Homo sapiens: one gene and its partner. The protein of the gene in region 2 interacts with the protein of the main gene of each other region in a pairwise test. Each region holds a gene or a part of one and is shown on either strand. Other genes may lie near its edges.

Region 1 (4,820 bases), on a different chromosome or scaffold from region 2:
TGCTCAACCTCCCGAGTAGCTGGCACTACAGGTGCCCACCACACCAGGCTTGATTGTGACTTGACTGTCACCCAGTGTCACATGAGGGCAAGTGTGGAATTTTCCATTTGTGGGGTCACGTCAGTACTCAAAAAAATTCGAATTTTAGAGCATTTTGGATTTCAGATTAGGAATGTTTAACCTAAGTTTGTAAAGGAAATTTTTTAGCCTTAGAATAGGGATGTTTCAGATTGTTCAAGAGACAAATGAAAGACTAAAACAACCAGAAAACATTGGAATGATAAATCATTAAGTATATTTAAATGTGCGTTGTTTACCTCCTGCCCATACAAAACCACTCATGACATACATACAAATGTAAGGACAAAACTGTAGTCACCTGATTAACAAGAGCCAGAGTTCATTGCATGCTGATCAACGAACCAACACAACTTTTATCATACACTAAAAAAAGGGTAGAACAAAGGCCAACTTAAAGCCTGGAAAGTGATCTAATCTGTTAAATTAGTGTACCGCAGAGTAATTTTGAAAGCCTTCTCGTTTTGTTTTGTTTTTTTTCAGAGACAGAGTCTCGCTCTGTCGCCCAGGCTGGAGTGCAGCGGCGCGATCTCGGCTCATTGCAACCTCCCCCACCCGAGTTCAAGCCATTCTCCTGCCTCAGCCTCCTGAGTAGCTGGGACTACAGGCGCGTGCCGCCACGCCCGGCTAATTTTTTGTATTTTAGTAGGGACGGGGTTTCACCGTGTCGCCCAGGCTGGTCTCGAACTCCTGAACTCAGGCAATCCGCCCACCTCGGCCTCCTAAAGGATAGGATTACAGGCGTGAGCCACCGCGCCCGGCCCCTTCTCTTTTTTAAAACCAATTTCACTAACATTTACTTAAAAATGATTTTCTGCTTGGCAGAAGTGACTTAAGGCATGTGGGGGAGACACTGCGGGTCTGTCTCAGATTCCTTTAGACACCAATGCTCCACAGTTTTACGACTAGGTAATAGTCCGATAATCACCCATGAGTTCCTGGACTCCGGTTTGTTGTGGGATTGGAAATAAACGAGAAAGGCTGCGTTCATCATCATGGCCTTAATTTCTTCTCCCAACTTCCGGTCGTGCAGGTGTCTTGGGCAGGTGATCCCGAGGCCACTCTGCCGTGTTCTGTGAATCTTGGCGGAAGGGAGGCGAGCTGTAAATAAAAGCGTGACCATTAGAATCGCCGCTGTGTAGTATTAACCTGTTGAGCGCGGGGCTTCCCGGGGCTGGAGCTGCACCGCGGGCTCTGCTGTCTGGGACTCTCCTCCAGCGCGGACCCGACAGGACGCCAGGGACCAGGCCGGTCCGGCCGGGACAGCGGGGCCTCGGGCAGCGACGGGGCCGGGCCTCCCCCCAGCACGTCCCCAGCTCGGGCACTGAGGCCTTGCGGAGACCCCAGGACTCGCCGCGGAGGCCACCAGTGCGCGTCTCGCGTGGCGCTACGGCCTCGGGAATTCCGTCACGGCATAGCCGGGTCCAGCGCGGTGTAGACCGGGGCCCCGCGCCTTGCTCGGCCAGAGCGGCTCAGGTACTACTCCAGGTCCGGCCGCACTCGCGGCCACTGCGAACAGCCGGGACACCCAATCCCACTCCGCCCAGGGCCAAGAAGCCCGAGGAGGCCGCAGAACCGCTCCCGCTCCCACTCGCGGCCCCAAGGCCCCACCCCCCCCTCCGCCGCGCGCATGCGCCGCCCCCGAGCAGCCGCATGTGGCGACGGGAGGGGCCTGCCAGCTCCCCTCCTCCCCGGGACCGGCTCACTCCGGCCCCGCCGAGGGGGGAGCTGGTTTCCCCTCGTCCTCGGGGCCCCCTCGTTGCAGAGCGGCGGCCACGGAACCGCAAGGGCCAGAGCGGGCTGCCGGCGCCAGCTACCCCGGAGCCGTGGCTGGCGGCAGAGGCGCGGGGCGTCACTGGAGGCCGGGCGGCTCCTCGGCGCTCCCCCTCGGTGGCCGGGGCGGGATGGTGCGTCCCGCAGGGCGCGCGCGGCTCCCGCGCTTCGGGCGCTCGGCGCGGGCGCGGGCGGGGGCGCGGAGGGCGGGGGAGCGGACCCCGATTCGCAGGACCGGGCCCGGGCTGCGCGGGCAGGGCCGTTGGCGGGGCGAGTGGGGGCGCCGGGCGCCGCGGGGGCCGGGGGCGGGGGGTGGGCGGGGCCGGGCGCCGCCGCGGAGCCTCCCGGGCCGCCGCGATCATGTCGGACCAGGCGCCCAAAGTTCCTGAGGAGATGTTCAGGGAGGTCAAGTATTACGCGGTGGGCGACATCGACCCGCAGGTACCGCGCCCGCCCCTGCCGCGGCCTCCTCCCCCGTCCGCGTCCCCGTCCGTCCCCGTCCCCGTCCCCGTCCCCGCTCCTGCCGCGGGCGCGCGCCGGGCGCAGAGCGTCGGGTCCGCCGAGGCCGCTGGCCTGACTGCGCTGAGGGCAGGGGCGACCGCGGGGTGGGCGCGGGAGGCCCGGGCCCGGGGGAGTGCGGGAGGGAAGGCGGCTGGGGCTCTGTACCTCGGCCCCTAGTGCGCGCCCTGAGCCCCCGGCCTGCGGCCCTGGGGTCGCCGCCCCCGACCCACCGGGCCGCCTCGTTCTCTGCTCCTTTGCTGAGCGGGACGGGCGCGGGGTCGCGTCTCCCCATTCCCCGCGCCGGGCGTCTCGGCTCCCGGGAGAGCAGCTCCGAGGGCGGACGAGGGGCGCCGGGATCCCCAGCCGGGGCAGCTCGCGCGGGGACCCCAGCCTCGCTCGGCCGGCGGGGGTCGTGGCCGTGCACCGGCTTGGCCGCCTCCGCCACCCGGGCAGCTGCCGTCCTGTGCGGGGCTGAGGAGCGCTCCCTTCCAGCCTGTGTCCCTGCACGTGGGGGCTGGCATTCGTCTTCCTTGATTTTCCCACTTGGACGATTAATTTTACGGTACCCTGGTAACACCATCACATTACACATTTAATTTTGTGTAGTTTGGGCTCACGCCAAAGGATATTGTGGGTTTTCCTTAGTATTCCTATAATAATATATCTGTTTGATGTCACACAGTTATCAGTCCGTGGTAGGAATGCATCTTAGTTGAATATCCTCTTCAGGTTAATCTTCAAAATATTTCCTTCTTAAAAGTTTAGCTGTACAGTTGTGTTGCCTTGGGTGTGACATCAGTGGCCCCCACCTTGGAGGATGGGGATCCCCAGTGATCAGAGTTAGGCCTGGAAGGGCGGAGACTCATATTTCGCAGATGAACTTGGATGGTGTAGAAGGAATTGTAGAAGGCTGAGTGATCTTGGCCTTCTTGAGGTTCGTCCTTGTAACAACTTTTTGGACCCTTTTTGCCCTGTAACTTTAGGGTAAAGAGACTTCAAGGCCGGGTTTACCCCTGTAATCCCAGCACTTTGGGAGGCCAAGGCGGGTGGATCACCTGAGGTCATGAGTTCGAGACCAGCCTGGCCAACATGGTGAAGCCTCATCTCTACTAAAAATACAAAAATTAGCCGGGCGTGGTGGCGGGCGCCTGTGGTCTCAGCTACTCGGGAGGCTGAGGCAGGAGAATTGCTGGAACCTGGGAGGTGGAAGTTGCAGTGAGCCGAGATCGCGCCACTGCACTCCAGCCTGGGCAACAACAGCTAGACTCCGTCTCAAAAAAAAAAAAAAAGCCTTCTATCTTTGAATTTACAGAGTAAAACAGTTGCTGAACACGGAGCGATGAAGATGAGTGCCTGTAACAGTGTTAGCTTTTTCCAGTATTGATGATTCCCCCGCCCCTCTTTTTTTTGTTTGTTTTTTTGTTTTTGTTTTTTGCTATCCACCATTTTTCTCTTCCCCCTCCTTCCTAGCCTTCGTGTTTCATTTTAGGACTTTGGCTCTTATAGGGGACTTGAACCAAATGTTACTTAAAACCTGGAACAAGTTGAACTGGAACCATATTTACTCGACTTTGAATCAAATCTAAGTGCTTAAAAATGTCCTTGGCAAACCACTTTCATCTGAAACAGTATATTTTCTGAAAAGTTTTGAGCCTGGACATCTGATTCTCTGACTCTTATGACTGTGGATTATAAGTTCACATGTTGACCATCTAATATGAGGCAGGCATGGACTAGGTGCCAGGTATAATACAGAGGTGAAGAGGACATGGTACCTGCCCTTTAGCGCCCCTCATTGGTGGGGGAGGGAGCACACCTGGACATATCACAGTACAAGGTGTAGCAGATTTCTCCACTGGGGTGCAAAGTAGACACCACTGAAATGTCACTCAGTAGATGTCATTTCAGTTGGGTTTTGAGATAAGCAGAAGTTAAGAACATGAAGGAATATTTTCATGTGGAGCGTATGTGCTGAGGAATGAAGGCATTCATGCGTTTGGGATACATCAGGATGATCACTATATCTGGAACAGAGTGATATGAGATAAATCTATTAAGATACTCAGTAGTGTGGAGATTGAAGAGAAGCTATTGGTTTTGGCATCCTCAAAGTTCGTGAAAACCGAGTAAAGTGTTTTTGGTAGAGTGTTGGTGGAAGGGGCTGGATTGCAGGGAGTTGAAGAGTGAATGGAAACTGAGAACAGAAAGGTTAGACTCTTCAGGAAGTTTGTCCTGAGAAGGAAATAGAGAAGGTGCCTGAGGAAGAGAGGGCTGGGGAGGGATCTGTGTTGCATCACAAGCGCGTGGAAGGATGTGGGTGACTTTACTGTTTACAGGTGGAGGGAACATAGCTATGGACAGGGAAACTCATGAAGAAGGGAGTAGGATCAGAAACAGACTGGAGGATAGGAAAAGGAGGGGTGCCTTTTCTGAAGACCAGTCGAATGGATGCGTGAAGCTAAAAATGC
Region 2 (4,771 bases):
CACCTCTTCTCATTGTTGGCTAAAAGAAAAAAAAAATCTCTCTCCTTTAAGTCATACACACACACAGAAGCTGGCCATTGGAGGACAAGCTGACTTTTCCATCACTGTTGGGCCTACATTTTCCTGCTCATTTGAGATAAAGTCTTGTTTTTTCTTGTAAATAATATTTTTATTGTTATAAATGTTACATACAGTCATTGTAGGTCTTTTGGAAGAGAGGAAAATGCAAAGATCAAAGTTAAAATTGCCCTCAAATCCCCCTGCCCATTTTAGGCATAGCCTCTCTTTTGGACATTCAGACCCCGCTGGCCCACCTGGGCTGCCCATCGGGAGGGTTCATCAGGGTGTGTTGGGGGTGTGGGGAGGAGGTGGTGGGGAACCAGGAGGCATTCAAAGTGGGTTGGCATTGAATGTGAAAGCTTCCTCATCCTGACGAGGGTTGCCTGGGCTCATGGATGCAGAAATCATGAGCATGAGGGGGTAACAGACATTGCTTGGTGTTTCCACCTGCATCCAAGCAGCCGAGGAAACACACCCTGGAGGGGTGAGACTCAGAGCTCCCAGTTTGCACTGGGCTTTTCCTGCAAAGTCAAAAGTAACCTGGGTCCGTGCAGGGTCTGTGCTCAGTTCTACAATAAGGTGCCCCTTAGTCTCTATGTACACTGGCAGTCTCTGACATAAAATGTGGCTTATAACATTTGTCCCATCTACTTCCCAGGACTTTGTTGGGGATTAGGGGATGTCAGCACATAGGGCTTTAGGATGGAGTGTTTGCCTTTCAGTTCTCAGCCCCTTGCAGGGATGACCTCATTTCATCTTCCCTGCAACCCTAGGAGGTAGAACTATTACTATGCTCATTTTACAGATGAGAAGACTGGGGCTTTGGGAAGTAAGTAACTTGGCCAAGGCCACGCAGCTGCCAAGTAGAGAAGCCAGGACTCGTAGGTCAGGGGGCCCCAGAGCCTGGACCTCTAACACTGTACTATTCCACTTCGCTTGGGTGAGGTGGTAATGTTGTCACTTGCTAATTTGTGGTTCTGACCCTCCCTTCAATGGCATTTAGTCAGGAGAGGTTTGCTTAGGGTCACTCACTTGTTGGTTTATTCACTCACACCTACACTCATTCATTCATCTGCCTCAAGGACAACTTCTTAGGCTCCTCTGGGAGGCCAAGGAGACAGTGAGGGACCAGATGGGCAGGATCCCTGCCCTCTAAAGTCTCCTGTCCAACAGTCTCCATGACACCAGAAGTGAATAAAGGTGGATGGAATGAAGTTTGGGAATTCCTAACTGGAAAATGTTGTGCTATGTATTATTAAGTTCAAGCAAAATTAGTATCTATAATAAGAAAGAGCATTTCTTAGAATTTCTCCTCCCTTTTTTGTGTGTCCTGTAATATTCCTTCATTCCATTAATGCTTATGAAAGAGTAAGTGAACCAAGTGGAAAATCATTCATGGGATTCATTTCTCTAGAATATTTTGTTTCATCTCCTGGGCTTTTTGAGGGATGTGTGCCTACTGCATTGATGTCCTGAAGAGAGAGGTGGTATCTTGTAGCTTTTTTTCCCTAATTCCTGATGCAATTCAGTATAAAGAAGAGATCAGGGCAGGAGGTGGTCTGCCTGTTTTGTTTACTTCTTAAACCTCAGGCTCATTATCTGACTGAATGAAGGAATGAATGAATATACCATCCAAGCCAAGAGAAGACATTAGCTGCTCTGCAGAGGGGAGAGACAGATATCTCCTGGGGATCTTACAGGTTTCAATTCATTTTTTGTAGAGTTCACACAGTCAGATTCAACCCCATGGATGTTTTTGAGCTGGTGCCTCATTCTGGGGACTCATGAAATGACTAGGTCCAGGCCTTTGATCTGGAGCATGTGGCAGCCTCGTTGGGAACGCAGGTGTCTGGACCTCTCTGCAGGGGACACACATTGAAGAGGGCCTGGAGTCTTGAAGAAGCACTCCAGTGTGTCAGCATGGTCAGACTGTGGGGTTAGGTGGCCGTGGTAGATGGGAGATGAATAGTTGCAGGCAGAGCCAACTGGTGTAGCGTCTTAGAACCATCTAAGGAATCTGGCCTTGACCCTGAAGGTCGTGGGGTGAAAAGTCCAGGTTTTCCTGAGATTCCCGTGTCCCTTCCGTTGTATATATCACCCACTGTCAGCCCAGCATAGCCTTGTGATGTATAACTATGAAATCATAGCTCCTTTCGACAGAGTATTTCTGAGCAGCTATTTCCTGGTGCAGTCCAGGAAGTTATCTCTGACCTGAATGCTGGCAGGGTAGCTTCCATCTTGAAGTGGGGCCTCTGGCCACCTTCTGTCTCCAAGCCTCAGCTGCCCTACCTTAGGAGCAGACTGGAAGCCGCATTTAACCTTCAGAACTCTCGCCCTGGCTTATCCAGAGATGAACCAAGAAGGGCAGCTTCTTCATCCTCCTTTCCCCTCCCCCCACCTTGTTTTGAATGCCAGAGCAGGAGGGGCTTTGCAGCTAATGAGCCAAACCTTTCATTCCACTGATGAGCAAACATAGGCTTGCCTGAAGCTGATGGGACCTGCCCAAGATTCTCCAGATAATTGTGGTGGGGCTGGGATTCTAGGTCAGAGGCCAGGGCGGGCCTGCACATAGTTGGGCTGGGTCTTGCCTGCCTTTGAGAGGCTGATGGCGCAGTTGGCAGGGTGTGGCATCATAGGATACATGTGTGTTTGTGTGTCTGTGTAACGGAAGTGCCCCAGGTCACTCTGATAGCATCACAACGTTCAGGTGCTGAGTGAGACCTCACAGGTTATCTCAGCTGAGCTCCCAGGCAGTGGGAAATTGCCAGATGACAGCTTAATTCTGAATCACACATACCTGAGGCCTCCCATCTTGAAGAGATGCAGTGTGTGTGCACACAGCTTCCACTGGGTGATGTTCCTTTGACTCTCATGTCAATATCTTTATTGGCACTTGGGCTGGAGTCACAGCAGGGATTGTGGCTGTCACATGCGTGTACCAGCACATATGTGCATGCATGTGTATGCACACACACGCTCACACACATACACATGGAGCATCTCCCTGGTTGTCACTTGGGTTCCTCCAGGCTCACAGGGCCAGAGGGGCATTTCCTTGCCTCCATGCAGGGCTGAACTTCCTCTGTGGGCAACTTCCTGGTCCTTTAGAATTTCCAGAAGAGGAAACCCCCCACTTCCCTGAGCCCAGAGGCGAGCCCGGATGGCTTTCTTTGCTTCCTTTGGTCTGGGAAGTCTGATCATTCCAGTCCAGCCCAGCCAATGGGTTTCACAGTGAGGAAGGGGAAGCATAAGAGAAGGTGCCAGCCTCCTGGGGCACTCATTTCTCCCCTGCAACTCCAAGCCCAGCTAGTGCTCCCTGTAGGTTTCGACAGACAAAAGCTGGCACCTAAAGGCTCCTGGACCCGATGAGGGTGGGGCCCGAGCCTCCTGTTCAGCCTCGTCACAGCTTGGGCTTCACCCTCTGCTGACCGGTGAGGCCATGAGCTCCAGGACGAAAAGGCCTCCACCTGTCCCTGGTGGCATTTCCAGAACCAGCAGCACAGGTCAGCACAGAGCTGGCACTCAGGATGGATTTGTATGGGGAGCGCTGCTTCCCGGCAGTCTGTTGTTTCATGGGAGGTGGAGGGAGGTAAGGAACCAGGTAGAAGAAGGAAGGCATGGAAATCAAAACTAAGGCAGTATGTGGGGAGGAGCAATCAGGGTGACTTCCAAGAGGAGGTGGTGCTGGACCTGAGCCTGGAAGAATTACAGCAGTCAAAGGGGGAGAAAGAGGGGACAGGGTGGAGCAGCATCAAACTGGGATAAGCCTGGCCACTAAGACCCAATGCAGCTGCAATGGCCAGAGGTTTGGATGAGCCCAGGTTATGCAGGATCTTGTAGCCACATGAGCAGGTCTTGGTTCAGTCAGCAGAGCAGGAAGCCTGGGCTTGGGAGGGGAGAGTGGCAGAGCCTCTGTGGTTTAGGCTGAGCCCCTCCTGTGTGAAGGATGTGGTATAAATGTGGGAGGCTGCAGGGCAGGGAGGCTGGCTGTTGAGAGGCTATGCAGAGGCTCAGCCGAGAGACCAGGAGGGTCTGAACTAGGCAGGGGAAGTGGGAGCGGGAGGAGGGGCACGCTCAAGAGACAGCCAAGATGCAGGATTGACAGGACTCAGCAGTCTTAGAAGGCAAAATGCCCAGGGGATGACAGCAGCGCCTCATGTTTACTCAGTACAGGTTTCCCCAGTACTCAAGACAACTCCTTCTAATGGGTAGAGTCAGTCTCCCTGTCTGAAGGGCCGATCCTAGCACACAAGGGGGTAGAGTGCCTTGGCCATGACCAGATTATTTATTCACTTATCATTTCTTACCTTGTTCTAGTAAAGGCTTTGAGTGGCTTCCATGAATACATGAAATGAAGCCACAGAACACCAATTTTCTTTTTTTTAAGGAGGAAGAAAAAGATGGAGAAGCTACCATTGTATACTAACTCTAATAACCACACTTTTTTCCTAAGATAGGCCATACATTCAGCTCTGAACTTGCTAGCGGCAGATAAAAAGGGAAACTTGATCAGTGATATTCGATGCAAACTAGATAACAGTTTAAAAAACAATTCACTTGGGAGAAGTACAACTACTATTAGTATGAAAACTGTGGATGTCTTCAGCAGATGACCCCAAGCAACCTAATGGTCAATGTCCTCAAGAATGTCTGTAGAGTAAATGCAATAATAAATCTTATAATGTTTTTTTCTTGGTTTTGGCAAAAGCGG

What was found.
Region 1: the proteins of BTBD16 (region 2) and PAXIP1 interact in a two-hybrid assay, tested with the Homo sapiens proteins (one large-scale study listed by BioGRID).

Annotation. Positions count from the first base shown.
Region 1 is NC_000007.14:155,000,321-155,005,140, reverse strand, and holds the start of PAXIP1 (PAX-interacting protein 1), read left to right. Parts: upstream 1-2,016; 5' UTR 2,017-2,211; coding exon 2,212-2,292; intron 2,293-3,601; exon of another isoform or gene 3,602-4,820.
Region 2 is NC_000010.11:122,291,527-122,296,297, forward strand, and holds part of BTBD16 (BTB/POZ domain-containing protein 16), read left to right. Parts: intron 1-4,771.